Linked DNA regions of Homo sapiens. The protein of the gene in region 1 purifies or fractionates together with the protein of each later gene. This does not show direct contact. Each region holds a gene or a part of one and is shown in the gene's direction. Other genes may lie near its edges.

What was found. The genes of interacting proteins can lie anywhere in the genome.
Region 2: the proteins of SERPINE2 (region 1) and PLAT purify together in Homo sapiens (affinity purification with mass spectrometry; one large-scale study listed by BioGRID and IntAct). This does not show direct contact.

The regions. Positions count from the first base shown.
Region 1 is NC_000002.12:224,000,837-224,005,877, reverse strand, and holds part of SERPINE2 (glia-derived nexin isoform b precursor), read left to right. Parts: intron 1-3,955; coding exon of another isoform or gene 3,956-3,977; coding exon 3,978-4,236; intron 4,237-5,041. UniProt on the Homo sapiens protein: Serine protease inhibitor with activity toward thrombin, trypsin, and urokinase. Promotes neurite extension by inhibiting thrombin. Binds heparin.
Region 2 is NC_000008.11:42,175,704-42,180,744, reverse strand, and holds part of PLAT (tissue-type plasminogen activator isoform 1 preproprotein), read left to right. Parts: intron 1-59; coding exon 60-255; intron 256-366; coding exon 367-503; intron 504-678; coding exon 679-819; intron 820-1,681; coding exon 1,682-1,848; intron 1,849-4,593; coding exon 4,594-4,752; 3' UTR 4,753-5,041. UniProt on the Homo sapiens protein: Converts the abundant, but inactive, zymogen plasminogen to plasmin by hydrolyzing a single Arg-Val bond in plasminogen.

The DNA.
Region 1 (5,041 bases):
GCTTATGATCTTCCCTCCAATGATGGCCTAGAGACCTATTTTTACTGTTGTGAAACAATATTCAAGCAAATGATAATCTTCCATCTTGTTGCTATGCAGTACATTTGGGCAGCACTCTTATTTCTCTCTGATTTGAAAGTTTAAAGTGTAATTTCTCTTAAAAAGGAAAATAAACAGGAGGTTTCTATGTACTTCCCATTATGGCATCTGCTTGTTCCAGAGATCAAGCATTTCAAAGCTTGAGAACTCCAAGTTACTTCATGTAAACGATTGTCTATTTGGACATGAGTGTGTTTCATTGTTAGGAATTATGCAGGCCTAAAGTAATTTATAGATCAACACCCACTCTCCTGGCTACTGAACTTTGGAGAAAAATGAAAGCTTATTCTTAGACACGTATATAAGCCAGGTGAGTTTAGACGAGTGAGCATTTGGCCTAGGAAACCAAGGCCAAGGAGAAGTTCTGCCCAGCACATCAATCAAAAATAGCTCTGATTCCAAGTTCTGCACAGCTCTAACACTGTCCCAGTGCACTTTTATGAAACTGTACATAGACAGCTCTCAAAAACTTCCCAAGTCCAAGAAACCCAGAAAAACACCCATAACAGCTTTCTTCCGTGTCATAGGAAAACTGTTCTTTTAGCGAAAATTTATAATGAAGCAGAATTCTGCTAAATAAGATGGCTGTTTATTTGGGAGACTGTCCTTGTGACTTTAAGACATTGGAGCTGTTAGATTTCTCACTGTCACTGATCCTTTCACCCTGTTTTTACAATGTTTTATATATATATATATATATATATATATATATAATATATATAAAATATATAAAATATATTTATATATTATATAATATAATATATAATACTACATATATATAATATATATGTAGTATTTGAGTCTATCAACTTTAAGCTACCAGAGGCAAAACCAGTTTAATGTTCATGTCTTCTGAATCCAAATTCTAATATTTATTCAAATATTCACTAATCTAGGAGCATTTCTTTGGGGAGGCTTCAGGAGTACAGATTATAGTGGGCCGAATGTAGACACCAGAATAGACTATAATGCAAGAGACAACAATTGAGATGGATGAAGTTGGTCACTGCATTTGGCCATTTGTAAGAAAGATTGTACACAATGTTTTATACTTATGATGACTTTGTGCTATATTAAATTTTAAAGAGGATATTTATTGCTCAAAAGAAAGAAAAGGCAAGAGGGAGGAAGGAAGGGGAGAACACAGTTTCTAGTTTTTAGATGGAATGAATAAAGCTTCCACGGTCATGATTTGGACGCTCTCCAAAGTCCAGTAGGCTCCAGGAAACTCCAGGGATTGTCGTGGCATTAGAGCCAGTCCTAGGTGCCAAAGTCAAAATAGGCCACGCTGGCCCGTTGAGCCCAAGCGGGAGCAGCGTATGTAGGTCACTTACATGTTTTGAATTTAGACGGGCTGAGTTGATACAATTGTTTTACAATGAAGCTCTGGAGAAACACGGAACATTCTAAATCTTTAGAAAAGCGCTTGTTTCACAACATATAAGAAACTTGCAACATCAGCTGGAAGGATGGCCTCAGTGGTTCACAGTGGGGCCCTCTGTGTCGGGGGGCCAGGCAGGGAGTTCTGCGTGTGCCCACAGTCCTTGCTCGATGTGATGGTGGCTCTTCCCTCAGAGAGTGTCTTGAGCTGACCGTGAGGATCAGGATTAAACACAAGCGTTTTCTTAGCCACACTCCATAAACGCTGTTGTGATGCAGGGAAAGATTAATTAATAAAAATAGGAAGTATTTATGAGCCATCGGATTAATCTCACAAGTGTTTATTGAACATCTCCTACGCCCTAGGGTGGGAAGCACAGAAAGTGTGTAGAAAGGAAGGCAAGGAGACACCAAATACGGGGCCAGTTTTGCCTAACACTGTGGTTGTGCCCATGCTTTCCCCCAGAGCACACAGAGACATGATTTCCCCCTCCCTCCAGGTCACCTGTCTCTTAAAAGGCCCCCTTCTGTTTTATTCTCTGCAGTCACCCCTAACCTCCCACACGTAACAACAGAGTGGGACACATTGGCTCCACGGGAGACTGTGCTTAGCAGGAGCTTGGGCCTCTTGGGGAAGAACTGAATTAGCAACATCACGAATGCTGCTTTTGTTTTACCAGCTGCCACTGTTAAGTTCTTACTTAATGAAAGTATTTGCTTTTCCATAAATACATGTAAATTTCCTACCTCTTACTTGTCATAGCCAGAGAAAGCTCTGTGAGTGGTAATTAAGGAAGGAAGCTTCTTTAAAACAAATCACTGTAGTTGAGAACATCCGTGTAAGCAACACCATCCTCAAAATTGATGAATTTACCAATTGTCCTACCCTATTGTAACTTTAAAGCAGTCACTTAAGTTTATTTTAATTAATAATTCTTTAATTTTAAAAGCAGTGTGCTTATGGTAAAAGAATCAAGCGCTTGTGGTTATAAGATAATCAGAGCAACCCGAGGGATTCACTCCCTTGTTTGAAATCCTCCAGGGGTTTCTTGTAACCCTTGGAGTGAAATCCCAGTGCCTTTCCAGGCTCTACAGGACCTTACCAGATCTGAACTCTCCTTCGGCTTCACCCACCTGTCTCCCTTCTTTACGACCTTGATTTCACATCCACACTGGCCTCTAATACACCAAGTTTATTCCCACGTCAGGGCCTCGGCCCTGCTCTCCCTCTGCCCAGCGTACTGTTTACCCATCAGAGTGTGGCTGGCTCCTTCCCCCATTCAGGTCTCATCACGATGTTCCTGCCATAGAGATGGCTCCCTGATCACCCTATCTAATGACCACCCCCCGCACCCTGCCGGCCCCTCATCTGCTCGCATCCCTGTATTTTATCATTGTGCTCTTTATCCTTTTCTGAAAATGCTTTATTGCTTGCTGGCTTATTTTCTGTCTCCCTTCTAGATTGTAAGCTCAGTGCGGGTGAGAGTCTTGTCCATTCAGTTATGTCATATGCCTAACACTTAGAAAAGGGTCCGACACCCAGTGAACCCTCAGTAAATATTGGCTTAATTGGATGAAGGGCACTTATGAGAATTAAATAATGATTAGGCTGAGCATGGTGGCTCACGCCTGTAATCCCAGCATTTTGGGAGGCCGGATCACTTGAGGCCAGACATTCGAGACCAGCCTGGCAAACACAGTGAAACCTCATCTCTACTAAAAAAAAAAAAAAAAAAAAAATTGCCAGACGAGTTGGCGCACACTTGTAATCCCACATATTCAGGAAGCTGAGACGTGAGAATCACTTGAACCCGGGAGGCGGAGGTTGCAGTGAGCCGAGATTGCGCCACTGCACTCCAGCCTGGGCAGCAGAGTGAGACTGTTTCAAAATAAATAAATAAATAAAAATAAAATAACCGAGAATTAAATAATGATTAGTATAGGACCTGGCACATTGTAAGGACCCAAGAGATGGAAGTTTGCTTCCTTTCCCTCCCCACCTCCCCAGGGTGTGTTTTGAAAACTGATTTAATTACACTGTTCTGTCTTAAATATATTCACATGGCATTCAATTATGCTGAGTACAGTCAAGCATACTAGGTGAGTACAAAATGGCCTCGCAGGCCAGGTACAGTGGCTCACACCTGTAATCCCAGCACTTTGGGAGGCTGAGTCAGGCAGATCACTTGAGGTCAGGAGTTTGAGACCAGCCTGGCCAACATGGTGAAATCCCATCTCTACTAAAAATACAAAAATTAGCCGTGTATGGTGGTACACGCCTGTAATTCCAGCTACTCAGGGGGCTGAGGCAGGAGAATTGCTTGAACCCAGGAGGCGGAGGTTGCAGTGAGCTGAGATGGCACCACTTCACTCCAGCCTGGGTGAAAGAACGAGTCTCTATCTGGGGGAAAAAAAAAAAAAGTAGTAAAGTACCCATTTAAGTATAATTTAAATATTTTTTAACTTACTTTTCCAGGTCGTCCTTGGTGGAAGGAACCATGAACTGGCATCTCCCCCTCTTCCTCTTGGCCTCTGTGACGCTGCCTTCCATCTGCTCCCACTTCAATCCTCTGTCTCTCGAGGAACTAGGCTCCAACACGGGGATCCAGGTTTTCAATCAGATTGTGAAGTCGAGGCCTCATGACAACATCGTGATCTCTCCCCATGGGATTGCGTCGGTCCTGGGGATGCTTCAGCTGGGGGCGGACGGCAGGACCAAGAAGCAGCTCGCCATGGTGATGAGATACGGCGTAAATGGTGCGTGTGCACAATTGCTCACTGGCGGAGCCTTTGCCTGAGAGTCTTGTGACAGGAGGGTTTATGGCTTGGTTTTTGCTGACAACCCCAAGAAGCAGAGCAGCCAGAAGGGGATTTGCTGGTGCCACTTGGGGCTTGGGGTCAGTCTCTTCTAAAGAACAAACACTGTGGTGCTGGCAGTTAGGAGAACTAGACTCTGGTCCCTTTTTTGTACTTTTGGAGCTTGGGGTCTGCCACTAGGTCTCCTTTCCCAGGGCTCCAGCCCTCGTTCCAGCGAGGGGGACACTTCCTGGCTTACCGCCTCCATGGCGCCCAGGGTTGAGTTGCGCTGTGATCGTAGATGTGCTTGTGAAGCCTGTGAGAGGAGCTGGGAAGGGGTGGCTGTGGAGGGCCCAGGGGCCTCGTAGTGATGGAGCCATCCTGGGTCTTGATTGTGGTGGTGGCCACACAAATCTGCACAAATGATAAAGTTGCACAGACCCCCCTCCCCAAGCCCACAACAGGAGTGTATGGAAAATGAGTGAAATCTGAATGCACCCTGTGGACTGACCTGATGGAAATTTCCTGATGCAACGACGGTACCACTGGGAAGACTGGGTGAAAGGCACGTGGGACTTCCTTGCATATTGTTTTGCCACTTCCTGTAAATCTATAATTATTTCAAAATATAAAGCTAAGCAAAGACTTGGAACCAACCCGAATGTCCATCAATGATAGACTGGATAAAGAAAATATGGCACATATACACCATGGAATACTATGCAGCCATAAAAAAGAGTGAGTTCATGTCCTTGCAGGGACATGG
Region 2 (5,041 bases), on another chromosome or scaffold:
ACCTACACACGTGCAGGAGGCCTGTGGGACTGACTGCCTCCTCGTCCTTTCCTCCCCAGCCACCTGCGGCCTGAGACAGTACAGCCAGCCTCAGTTTCGCATCAAAGGAGGGCTCTTCGCCGACATCGCCTCCCACCCCTGGCAGGCTGCCATCTTTGCCAAGCACAGGAGGTCGCCCGGAGAGCGGTTCCTGTGCGGGGGCATACTCATCAGCTCCTGCTGGATTCTCTCTGCCGCCCACTGCTTCCAGGAGAGGTAGGGGCTCGGAAACCCAGTTGGTTTTTCCACCCTCTAACGCCTAGAAACCAAGCCCTTTAGGGGAAATCCCACAGCAAAAAAAGCATTCTAAGGCTGTTTCTCCACCAGGTTTCCGCCCCACCACCTGACGGTGATCTTGGGCAGAACATACCGGGTGGTCCCTGGCGAGGAGGAGCAGAAATTTGAAGTCGAAAAATACATTGTCCATAAGGAATTCGATGATGACACTTACGACAATGACATTGGTAAGAGCTCGTCATTCCCGGCTCCAGTTCATACAGATCACACAACACACCCACATGCACTCACCTATGTTTACACACACGGGCCTCCTCCTCCAGCCCCTGCCCCTCCTGCGTGTTCCTCCCCTCCCGGGGACGCGGCCCTCACGCCAGCTCACTCCTCCTTTCTCCCTCCCAGCGCTGCTGCAGCTGAAATCGGATTCGTCCCGCTGTGCCCAGGAGAGCAGCGTGGTCCGCACTGTGTGCCTTCCCCCGGCGGACCTGCAGCTGCCGGACTGGACGGAGTGTGAGCTCTCCGGCTACGGCAAGCATGAGGCCTGTAAGTGGAAGGAAGTCTCGGCCCCATCCTGTCTGCGGGACAGCAGGGGAGGCTGCGGTCCACCAGAGGAAAATGGGGTCAGGAGACCGAAGTTCCAGCCCCGGGTCAGGCACTGACGCCAGTCCCGTCTCCCTGTGTCGTGGGGGCCCGTCTCTGCTGTCTCTGCCTCACAGGGACACTGCAGGCCAGGAAAGGACACAACAGTATGAGGGCCTCGAAGTGCTGCAGGTGTTGGGAAGGTTCTGAGTAGGAAGTGGAGTACAGTCGCTAAGCGTGTGGGTTCTGGGAAGCTGGAGTTACAAAGACCCGATTTCAAATCCCACTTGCTGAGCTGTGTGACCGTGGACATGGATTTTTATTTTGAACTGCTCCCAGCCTCAGTTTCCTCGTTGGTAAAGTGGAGATAGAACTATCTCCCTAATTAGATTAGGAGGGTTAAATGAGATAATATTGAACGAATGGATGTCAGCTGGGGTGATTTTGTCCCCCAGGAAACGTTTGGCGAGGTCTGGAGACGTTTTTGGTTGTTACAGTTTAGGGTGAGGGTTAACGCCGGCCTTCAGTGAGTGCAGCCAGGGATGCTGCACACTGCAGGGCTCGGGACTGTCCCCATCCCCCACAACAGGGACCTCCCTGGTCCGAAGCATCAGCAGTGCCACTACGGAGAGGCTGTGGGTTCAATCCCGGAATCCTGCTGTTTTTGTGGGTCAAAACGATAAAATACCAGCAGTGTCATAGGATTCGACCTAATACATGTTGAATCTTGATCAATGTTAGCTATTATTGGAAAATTTGGCTTTCTCTTTCAAAAACGTTTATAAATAACTTTCCCTAAAACCATATGATGGTTCTCCCCTTTCAGTGTCTCCTTTCTATTCGGAGCGGCTGAAGGAGGCTCATGTCAGACTGTACCCATCCAGCCGCTGCACATCACAACATTTACTTAACAGAACAGTCACCGACAACATGCTGTGTGCTGGAGACACTCGGAGCGGCGGGCCCCAGGCAAACTTGCACGACGCCTGCCAGGTAACCAGGAGTGGCGCGCCCATGCTGGGCACAACCCAGGGGAGAATGCCCCTGGGACAACAGGTTCTTCACCAAAGAAAAAAGTTATCACCAGAGTGGAGTGATTTCCTCTTAGTGATACCCCTGGGGATTCTAGATGAGGGCCTCACAGAATAAAGCAACTGGAGGAAGATCAAAGTCACCTAAACCTAAGAATTCTAAACTGCAGGAAATTTCCCCAGGATCTGCACAGGCAACTCCACCTGTACAGGATTTCCTTTCAGCCCAGGCAATTGATTGACTATTGAAGTGATGGAGAGAGCCACACAATTAAGAAACGTTTGCCTCAGCCTGGTGTGGTGGTTCACGCCTGTAATCCCAGCACTTTGGGAGGCTGAGGTGGGAGGCTCACCTGAGGTCAGGAGTTCGAGACCAGCCTGACCAACATGGAGAAACCCCATCTCTACTAAAAATACAAAATTAGCCTGGCATGGTGGCACATGCCTGTAATCCCAGCTACTCAGGAGGCTGAGGCAGGAGAATCGCTTGAACCCGGGAGGCAGAGGTTGCAGTGAGCCGAGATCGCGCCATTGCGCTTCAGCCTGGGCAACAAGAGCGAAACTCGATCTCAAAAAAAAAAAAAAAAAAAAAAAGAAAGAAATGTTTGCCTCTGTTGGCACTAGAGAATTGGAGTCTGCTTTGTAGAAGGAGAAGGAAGAAAGGCAACTTACTGGGAAGCAGGATCTAGATGATGTGAGAAAGAAGTTTTCAAAACTCACATTCAGCCCTAATACCCTGGGAAAGCACACTATTTGAGGTCCTTTGTGTGGGCATCCTTATCAGAATTAGTACTTATATTTCATGATTAGCCAGATACTGGGGTATGGGAGGACAGGCCAGCCTGCTGGTATTAAGACCTGCACAGAGCCAAGGAATTGATCTTCCTCAGACATTTCAGTGCCTGCAGCGTGCGAAGCTCTCCTTTAGGGGCTGGGGGTAGAAGAGATACAAAGAGAAGTGAGGCCAGGCTCTGGTGCTGAAGGATGTGTGGGCTTTGTTTTCGCAAGGCAGTCATATCGGCGGTTTCCCCTCTGATTCCCTGACAGGATTTAGTTTCTTTTTGAATGGTTTCTTCAGCAACCTCAGCTGTACCAGCTTACAGTCCAGAAACAAAAAGGTTGTACCAAAGTGAAACCATTATCTATCTGCAAGCTTAGTTAAAAGCAAAACCAAATCATTTTAATTCAATATAAGAACAGCTAACAATTACCAAGAGTTTTACTAGATGTCTTCCAGTGCTTTTCATGCATTCTTCTACTGAATGCCATAACCACTCTATGGGTAGTATGAATATTATCTCTATGGTACAGATAAGAAAACCAAAGCATGGTTAGTCTAAGGCCATCAGCTAGTAAGTGATGGAGCCAAGCCAGGGTTTTTGAGGCCTGAAACGTTTGAGTAATTAACTCTACTTTACCAGAATAGATACAGCCTAATCCTCCATGGGACCAAGATAACTGAGATACAATCTACCCACTCTTCAGTAAGTCTCCACTTAACAGCATGCCTGGAAAAAATAGGTTCTTAGAAACTGCAACTGTAAGTGAAATGACGTATAACAAAACCAATTTTACCACCAGCTAATTGATATAAACAAGAGTTGGTCAGGTGCGGGGCTCATGCCTGTAATCCCAGCACTTTGAGAGGCTGAGGAAGGCAGATCACCTGAGGTCAGGAGTTCGAGACCAGCCTGGCCACCATGGTGAAACCCTGCCTCTACTAAAAACACAAAAATTAGCCAGGTGTGGTGGTGCGTGCCCATAAGCACGAGAATTGCTTGAACCCCGGAGGTGGAGGGTGCAGTGAGCTGAGATTGCGCCACTGCACTCCAGCCTGGGTGGGTGACAGAGTGAGACTCTGTCTCAAAACAAAAAAACAAAAAAAAACAAAAAAAGAAGAGTGAAGTTCTTGTGGCAATATTTCTAGTCATAAAAACATCAGCAAACTTCTAAATAAAGACCCAAAACACTTCTAACATTCAATATTGAAATAAATGTGAGCTATACAACATTTAAGAAAGGTTAATAAAAACAAACATGGTATTTATTTACCCAATTTTTGGAGAATAAGTGAATGATGGCGGCCATAATAGTGGTGGGTTAATTCAGGGAATAAATGTTTGCAAAGCAAAAATGGTAAGGAACACCTCTTACTACCATGAAGTTCAAAAACAATCACAAATAGGGCAGGCTCCCTGACTGCCTCCACACCTCACAGTTTATCATGCATTCGTGTATTTAGCACAGACTAGACAGATTTTTACTTTATAACACTTTGTATTCATTCATTTTCCAACGTGCTTATTCCGGTTCAGGGTCTTGGGTGGGGGTGGCCAGAGCCACCTGGCAGCTCAGGGCGCCAGGCGGGACCAGCCCTGGACAGACGCCACCATCCTATTGCAGAGCCACTAACACCCACACTCACTCAGACTGGGCCCACGTAGATACATCCTCAGTTGGCTTAATGTGCAAGCTTTGGGATGTGGAAGGAAACCGGGGTACCTGGACAAAACCCAGGCAGACAGTGTCCCCAGACAGGAATTGATTTTTGTTTTCCTCATCAAAGTTATAATGAAATGACACTGAATGGAATATTATTGAAGGGCCTGCTGTATTTTGAAGATTACGATGTTCATGCTACACATACTGACTTTCTCCAGATAGTCTGCTTTTTTTGCAAACGCCAAACCTGCTATCTCCTTTGCAGGGCGATTCGGGAGGCCCCCTGGTGTGTCTGAACGATGGCCGCATGACTTTGGTGGGCATCATCAGCTGGGGCCTGGGCTGTGGACAGAAGGATGTCCCGGGTGTGTACACCAAGGTTACCAACTACCTAGACTGGATTCGTGACAACATGCGACCGTGACCAGGAACACCCGACTCCTCAAAAGCAAATGAGATCCCGCCTCTTCTTCTTCAGAAGACACTGCAAAGGCGCAGTGCTTCTCTACAGACTTCTCCAGACCCACCACACCGCAGAAGCGGGACGAGACCCTACAGGAGAGGGAAGAGTGCATTTTCCCAGATACTTCCCATTTTGGAAGTTTTCAGGACTTGGTCTGATTTCAGGATACTCTGTCAGATGGGAAGACATGAATGCACACTAGCCTCTCCAGGAATGCCTCCTCCCTGGGCAGAAAGTGGCCATGCCACCC